Linked DNA regions of Homo sapiens: all the other regions are linked to region 1. The links come from fine-mapping of genetic effects on gene expression. A gene starts in region 1. Each other region holds a variant in brackets. All regions are shown on one strand. Distances are between the middles of the regions. Region 1 holds the start of HOXB2 (homeobox B2). Region 2 overlaps SKAP1 (src kinase associated phosphoprotein 1). Region 3 overlaps SKAP1 (src kinase associated phosphoprotein 1).

The links. PIP is the estimated chance that this variant, and not a neighbour inherited with it, causes the effect.
Region 2: its variant is fine-mapped to the expression of HOXB2 in whole blood (INTERVAL, PIP above 0.99).
Region 3: its variant is fine-mapped to the expression of HOXB2 in monocytes after LPS (Fairfax 2014, PIP 0.95).

Annotation. Positions count from the first base shown.
Region 1 is chr17:48,543,718-48,546,217 of GRCh38, forward strand. HOXB2 (homeobox B2) reads right to left here and starts at 1,392. Exons shown (of 2, transcript NM_002145.4): 1 at 804-1,392; 2 at 1-30. The coding sequence starts at 1,194. It overlaps HOXB-AS1 (HOXB cluster antisense RNA 1), which reads left to right and starts at 634. Exons shown (of 7, transcript NR_102279.1): 1 at 634-695; 2 at 1,404-1,640; 3 at 1,778-1,847. RefSeq lists an enhancer at 1-260.
Region 2 is chr17:48,390,927-48,393,780 of GRCh38, forward strand. All of the region lies in intron 2 of SKAP1 (src kinase associated phosphoprotein 1), which reads right to left. Among named protein-coding and RNA genes, the nearest start is that of SKAP1, 38 kb to the right of the region's middle. The variant A/C (reference allele first, on the strand shown) is at 1,144.
Region 3 is chr17:48,319,841-48,322,694 of GRCh38, forward strand. All of the region lies in intron 4 of SKAP1 (src kinase associated phosphoprotein 1), which reads right to left. Among named protein-coding and RNA genes, the nearest start is that of SKAP1-AS2, 27 kb to the left of the region's middle. The variant CATTATTATTATT/C (reference allele first, on the strand shown) is at 1,507.

The DNA of each region.
Region 1 (2,500 bases):
CGCCACCAGCCTCCGGCAGTCCCAGGCCATCTGCAGGGAAAACAGGCTCGGCGTCATAGCGGGCCGTGTACTCAGCCCAACCTCAGTTCGGACTACCCCATCCTCCAAAACCAGTATCACCTCTCCCCTTCCTCGCCACCCCACCCCCGCCCCCACCCCAAAGCCGCTCGCTTTACTGCTTTTGGGTTTTCTTCTCTCCCTCTCTAGTCTACAGCCCCGGCCCGGGTCAGGGCAAAGCATTCAGAGCCGCCCACGGGCCACGCAGGGGGCGGAGAGCGGCTCCCTTCGGCGCCGGAACCTCAGATCCCCCTCCCAAGCCCTCCCAGTGGACCCCTCAATTCGGAACTTTCCAACTCAACCGGAGCGAGGGTCAGAAAGATTGTTCTTCACCCCTCTTCCTCCCTAGCTCTGAATTCTTCCTCTTCTCCTAGAGTTGGGGCAGAAAGGACCGAATCTTTTCTGCTTCTAGGGTCTATCCCAGCAACAACATACTCATTCCCCTACACAGATACGGGTGAAAACCTCAATCAAATCATTTTCTTCTAGCAGAAAAAAAGGCGTTTCCCCAACCAGCTTCCAAAATCAGCCATAGGGAGAGAAAGAGAGAGAGAGACAGAAAAAAAAAAAGACGCTGTTAGCGGCCAGGCCTGAACCCCAGTGGGATATTCTACTTCCCCATCCCAGGAATGGAGGGGGTAAGGAACCCCAACAGGCTCGCCACCATTTTTTTTAAACCTCCTTCCACTGCTTTTTCTCCCCCTCTTCTAGCTGCCCCTCACCCCACCCCCACCACGCTTACCGACCTGCAGGCGATCCGACCCCGGAGGCCGGAACGGCGGAGGCGGCCGGAGAAGGAGACGTGGCGGATTGGCTGGGTTTCTTGGCGGATTTCTTCTCTTTCATCCAAGGGAACTCGGGGGCCGGGGGGGCAGCGGGGAGTGGCGGCGGCGGTGGCGGCGGCAGAGCAGGCCCATCTTCGGCTCGCTTTTGGCTCCTGGGTCTCTGAAGGGTGGAGGCGCCGGGCTGGAGGCTGGGGAAGGTTTGCTCGAAAGGAGGAGGAGGAGGAATTAATGTCGACTCCTTGATTGATGAAGTTTGAAATGTCTCCAAGACAGCGGGGAAGGAAGTCAGACACTCGGCGAGCGACGGCTGGCTGTTTATAAACCCAATCTCCCTCTCAAATTCAAAATTCATGGCTTTCAATGGTGGGGGAGGGGGCTGCTGGGGGGGGCGTCAGGAGGGAGGATCGGAAGGGACCCCCCTCCTGCACCCCCCCCGATTTATGTAATGGAGCGATTTTGGGAGGGGGAGATTTCGGTCTCTCTTTTTTTTAATTTTGGGCCTTTATAATTGTATATTGCTGATAAATACAAGCGTATGGGGACTCTCTCTATTAAACCCAGGACTCCAGCGAAATTACAGGGAATTCGTGGTCACGGGACCGGCCTCCGCCAATCGCTCGTCTGGGCCTGGTGGAAAACAGAGAGCATTATTTGGTTTAATTGATTCAAAAACACCAGAGGACCACGACCAGGACACCATGAGCCCCCATTCCTACACCAGTGCCTCACATGCTCTCTCCCCAATGCCTCCGTTTCTCCAGAAAAGCTAGAGGAACCTTTTCCTCATCCCCTTCGAAGGTTAGAAGGTTTCAGAAGCCTGGAAAAGAAGAGACTCTAAGGGAGAAACCTTCCTCTTTTCCAAGTATTTTAATAGAGTAAATTAAGGCCTTCTTTACGTGGCCAGCAGCATCCCCTTCCCTTCTCCCCTTCCCCAGGAAAAGATGAGTGAGGATCTCCGCGTTGGAGGAAGAGGGAGTCGAAAGAGGCTTCCACTCTTTGAAAAAGGTCAGTATTAAGGTGAAAATAAGAAAGAGATTTACAATCATCACACCACTATCCCTGTTACCCTCCAAAAACAACAGTTAAATCTTGGGAAATGGACAGGAACTCCCAGGCAGACACATAGGAGTGAGATGGAGCATAAGGGGCATTTTTGGGCCTCTGGCCTCCATCGCTGTATGGTCTGGGTTCTCTTCTCTGCCCAGTGTTTGCAGCACTGCCTCTGCCCCTTATGTACCCCTGCTTTCCTCACTTTCAGGCTTCCATGCTTCTCTGTGACATCCCCCAAAAACAGGCAGAGTCTAAGATGTGCATGTACCCACTCAAGCCTCAAGCTTGTATCTGTATCCATATCCAGGGACATGAACAAGAACTGAGGTAGCCATTGGTTTAACTTAGAGCACTCTCAAAGTTCAGATCAGCGTTATGTGTGTGCATGAGTGTGGTGGGGAGATTTTCCCCTAGGACAAAGAGACTTTCCCTCCCATTTTTGCCATTGTGCTAGTTAAAAAAGAAAAAAGAAAAAAAAAAAAAAAAGAATCCCTGACAAGGAAGAATTCCCTGAAGATGGTAGGGGTGGAAATAATGACCACTGAGATGATATTCCATTTCTGGCTGCTGGGGGAAAATGTTTTTAAAATTTATTTTATTTTGAGGAG
Region 2 (2,854 bases), 150 kb before region 1:
TAGCCAGGTATGGTGGTGCACGCCTGTAGTCCCAGCTACTCGGGTGGCTGAGGCACAAGAATTGCTTGAATTTGCGGAGGTTGCAGTGAGCCAAGATCATGCCACTGCACTCCAGTCTGGGTGACAGAATGAGACTCTGTCTCAAAAAAACAAAAAACTAACTAACTAACAACAACAACAACAACATCAAAAACATTTTTCTGAACTTCAATCTAAAATCTTAAAGATATAAAATGAAAATATAAAAGGTATGGTTTATTCTGAACCACCAAGGACTATGGTCATTATTACATTAAAAAATGTTATTTAAGAAAAATTGTTCTACTTCCAGATAGCCTCACATATGAAAGAATAAACAAAATAATCATTATGATAAAATTATAAGGAGAGTTATACATTTCAAAGCTATTTTGAAAGGACAGAGACTTGCCATAAAAAACACATAAGATGATCTTCCTTACCAGGTCTTAAAAGTTAAGCCAAGAGATCAACAGTAAGTAATATTCTATCTTTCTCACCTGTAGGGCATTCCAGATTAAAACAGCAATAAATACAACCTCTCATTCCTAGAGAAGTAGATTCACAAAACTCTTTAACTCAGTTGTGAAATCTCAACATTCATCCACTGAATAACAGAGAACTAAGCAAAAATTTGACTGATATAACTGATGAGTTGAGTAATAATGTTGAAGTTGTTGTGGGTTTGTTTTTTCTTCCTTTAAGGATGGGAGGGAGGGATAAGACTGAAAAAGGAAGAAATGAGTTATTAACCTTCCAGATGTGGTCAAATTATTGCTATGACTTTTGAGCCTTTTCAGAGCTATTTAAACTTAGACGGATCATTCAACTACCTCTTCCTTTTTTTTTTTTTTTTTTTCTGCATTGGCACTGAAGCTCCAGTACAAGTAGCAAAATTAAAAAACAGAAAAAGATGTTATGAGTAAATCTTGAAACTTGTGAATAACATAAATGTATTAATAGCACATTATACATTAGTTCTTTTGATAAGCATACTTCATTTGAATGTGTTTTGTTTTGGGGATTTTTAAGCTCAATAATTAACATTTAAGAAAAGTAAAACTCTCTATATAATTAATGGTAATTATATTTACAGTATACTACTTCAAAACTCTTGCTCCCAAG[A/C]GTTTTATCAGGCTAACTCCTTGTCTTTCTTCCTATAATACAAAAATATCAGAATTATACATTCTTAAGCTAAATCTTGTTTTAAAGCTAAATCCACGTTAAGCTGAAAAGAAAACATGAAATTCCCAAAGAAAGTCAGAATTATTTTTATGAGATTTTACTAGTATATCATGTTTCACACAGAGCTATAGGTTAGCCACCCACAAATGAGACACGTTCAAGATATTCTTTCAGCCTGTAGTTTAAATGTCCTGAGTTTTGTGCCATAACCCTGTTACACAAAATGTATTTCTTTATTTCTTTCCATCTCAATATGATATAAATCTACTGGTCTCTTTTTGGAACTCCTTCAGCATTACTAAGTTTCACAGAAGGAAACAATACTCCAAGTTTGCTTCCATTGGCTCTGTCCTTCACTTCCAACAGGGAGCATAAATGACTACTTATCCAAGAAGGGCCATTGAGAGAGAAATTAAGCCATATCTCAATAATAAAAATATTCTATTTTTGGCTGGGCGTGGTAGCTCACTCCTGTAATCCTAGCACTTTGGGAGGCCAAGGTGAGTGGATCACCTGAGGTCAGGAGAGACCAGCCTGGCCAACATGGTAAAACCCCATCTCTACCAAAAATACAAAAACCTTTAGCCAGGTGTGGTGGCTCATGCCTGTAATCCCAGCTACTTGGGAGGCTGAGGCACAAGAATCGCCAGAACCTGGGAGGTGGAGGTTGCAATGAACCAAGATCGCACCACTGCACTCTAGCCTGGGCAACAGAGACTCGGTCTCAAAAAAAATATATATATATATATTTTTTTTTTCTTTACCCCTCCCCCACTCTCAACGTATTCTTGCAGTCAGATGGCCTCCACTGAATCAAACATTTAAAAAATGCTCTACTGTTTCTCCCAATGCGTTAGAATGCCATCAAGTGTCTGAGCACAGATCACAACTGCTTCATTCCAGGTGTCTCACATCTGGTGCTAATCCTGCAGTGACCATCGTAATAAAGCAGGAAGTGCCTTTGCCTGGCTTTCATACTAGCCACTCTCCAAAGGGCTCAATGAAAACTTAGACTTGGAATGTGAAAGCTGTTTAGTTTTTAAGAAAAGCAATGAAAATCACAGCTTAGGACAACAAATACCACAATAGGGCTTCATTTCCTTGGAATCACAGAAATTGCTATCCGTTTTTATTTTGTGTTACATGGAAAATATTAGCCTTCATTGGTAACACTTTCAAACAAAAAGAAAAGAGTATGTAAATATAGATAGGATTTTATTTTTTGTTTCTAAGTCTAAAAAAAGATAGCTATTTTTTGTTTCTAAGTCTAAAAACAGAATAGCTAAAGTGATTTGTACTGAAAAACATGAGCACTTGGAGAACACCCAGGATTCTTGACACAATTGTCTTTTCCTGTGGTCATTCACTCTAGACAACAAAAAATAGCAAAAAGCACATTATAATAGCTGTGATAGAGTCAGATGCTTCCATTTACAGCAAGTCCACAACCATGGCAAATACCAGTGAATGCCAAGCCAGCCATAAAAATAAGAGCTAAGCCCCTAAAGTTTACCAAGAATCACAGACAGTGCTACTTTTATTTCTCTCCACCCTTTTGTTTCTAGAGCAATACACGTTGAGGAAAGAATTAAAGGAAGCAAGGAAACAACAAAGAGACTAGGAAGTTGTAAAATATATATATATGTGTGTG
Region 3 (2,854 bases), 220 kb before region 1:
CAAAAAACAAACAAACGAACAAACAAACAAATAAATGAATTCCTCTCTTTTAATAAAAATTTTGAAGGCTTGATAAGAAAGCTTATGACCAAGTATCTAAAATATCCCTTATGTGATAACCAATATGATAACCATCTATTAAATGGACAAATAATCTCATAGTCTTTTAGTAATCCAAAGGTTAAAAAAACCCTGAAAACAAAATTACCAGGATATTTCATGAGGCAAGAGATCCAAAGGCATGCAAGATAACCCAGGAATAAAAATGAAGCTAAAAGGAAAAAAGGATGAGTTTCCTATTGATGATATCTATTATTACCAAGAAACAGTCTCTCATGAACCACAAATAACAGAGTAACAATTCAAGAACATGTCATCAGGAAAAACTCAGCCTTAAGTATTAATTAAGTGATCTTATTGGTTCTCTGTACACCTTAAAAAGCCCCTAAGTCTATTCTGAGAGGTATAATAAATCAGTAATATTATCTTAAGATTAAACTGATACTTCTAGACAAGGATGTCTTTCAAAAGTAAATTTTTTCTTTACTCTCCTGGAAATAAGTTGCTATAAAAACCTATAACATAGTAGAAACTCATAGTGCCCAGCACACTTATAAATGTTAAATAAAAGTAAATTATTTGGCCTGAACTTTATAACTCCTAAAAATACTAATGGTTACTGCAATATAAAAAAGAAAGTAAGTTTCTCTTAAAAATCTTACTAAGGCAAAGAAAACGCAATCAGAGAGAAAAAAATCATACAAGTTTTTATCAAAAGAGAGAGGATTTCTTGGCTGGGTGTGGTGGCTCACACCTGTAATTCCAATGCTTTGGGAGCCGAGGCAGAAGGATTGCTTGAGCCTAGGAGTTTGAGACCAGCCTGGGCAGCACAGTGAGATCCCATCTCTACCTCCACCAATTTTTTTTTTTAAAGAAAAAGCATTTCTTACTATCAGTAATAGTGGTAATTAAAAGAACAATAATGAATAAAATTCCTAGATACTTCAAAACTCTCATTTAACTGTTATGCTGGGCAAGGAGCAGCAGAAGGCTGTGATTATTGAATACATTACACGTCAAATTCTTTCTGTTTCTGGTGGAAATCTATGCTTCCAGGCCTAGGCCAGCCAAGCCAATGACAGGCATCCAGATAATGAGCACCCTTAGCATGTGAGGTCCCAGAATTTCTCCAACATTTTTTAGAGGATGTGATACTAATCAGTAACATGGCTAGCAGTCTCCAACAGAATGGAGAGAAACAAGCAACACTCAGCTAACCAAGAATCTCACTGGAGTATAGAAGGAACTACCCATTTGTATATGTTTTCTAATTACCCAAAAGCAAAGAATGACCCCTCAAGAAATCATTTGGGCCAATTCCCTACCTCTCTAGATATAAATATGTAACTTGTTCAAGATAGAGAGATAGTTAGCCACCCTATTTTAAAAGATTTTCAGGAACAATATTCCACAATGATCTTTTCTATCCAGCTCATCCTTCTGTCT[CATTATTATTATT/C]ATTATTATTATTATTATTATTATTATTATTATTATTAAGATAGAGTCTCGCTCTGTCACCCAGGCTGGAGTGCAGTGGCGCAATCTTGGCTCACTGCAAGCTCCGTCTTCCGGGTTCACACCATCCTCCTGCCTCAGCCTCCCAAGTAGCTGGGACTACAGGCGCCTGCCGCCACGCCCGGCTAATTTTTTTGTATTTTTAGTAGAGATGGGGTTTCACCGTGTTAGCCAGGATCGTCTCGATCTCCTGACCTTGTGATCCGCCAGCCTCGGCCTCCCAAAGTGCTGGGATTACAGGCGTGAGCCACCGCGCTCGGCCTGTTTCATTATTTTTAAAGGTTAAATGGTCTCTCCAGTCCATCTCTCCATTGAAAGGTCCACTGACATTGAAAGGTCCTCAGCACTGCTCACCAACACCATGGCAAGCATCTCCTAATCTTCTCTCTAATCACCCTTTCCTCCCAAAATATGAACCTGACTAAGTCAATCTGTGATTTTTTAAAAAATACTTCACAGCTGCCTATCACCTTCAAAATAAAGGTTGAACATAATCTTCACAATCCATACCCAAATTATTTTTCCAGTTTTATCTTCTCCTGTTCCTACCTGTGCAGCCTATGGTCTAGCCATAGCCTACTACTGAATTCTACCCAAGAAACCCCTTTGAATGTCTCCTTTCATATCTTTGCTTATAGTTCATTATCTGCCTGGCATTATCTTTCCTTATTTTTAACTGCTGACTGTACTTCAAAGCCTACTACCAACTTAAAGTTTTTGTAGAATTTCCCATTCAAGATGGATTTTACATTACTTTGTTCTCTTGCTACATTATAAAATTAGCATATTCTACCTTCATTACTTTTGCACATAAATCTATTTATAAGCCACCAGAGGGCAGGGATAGTCTTGCTCTCCTCTTTATTTCTTAGCACAGAGCTTGCACAGGAAGAGACTGAAATGTTTGCTGAATTGTATTCTGCATATTTGTGTATGCATATATATTTAGACCCATTTCATTTGATATGTGGTTCATTTGGGGGTGGGAAAATTACTAGAATCTACAATAAAGGGAAGTTCATTGACAGTTACACTCAAGGTATAACGGAAAGAGTGGGCTGGATATTTATGTTCTTCTAGCTTTGCTACTTATTGATTGTTGCCATGGGTAAGACATAATATCTCTGAGCAAGTGGCTGCTGTATCTATAGGCGGCAAGTCTATATTCCAGGCAGGAGGAAGGTGACAGAACAAAAGCAAAGGTGAAGACAGGAAGGGCAAAGGGCTTTCTCAACTTTCTTATTTTGGAGAGACAGTTCTTCTAGTGACTTCACTTTAC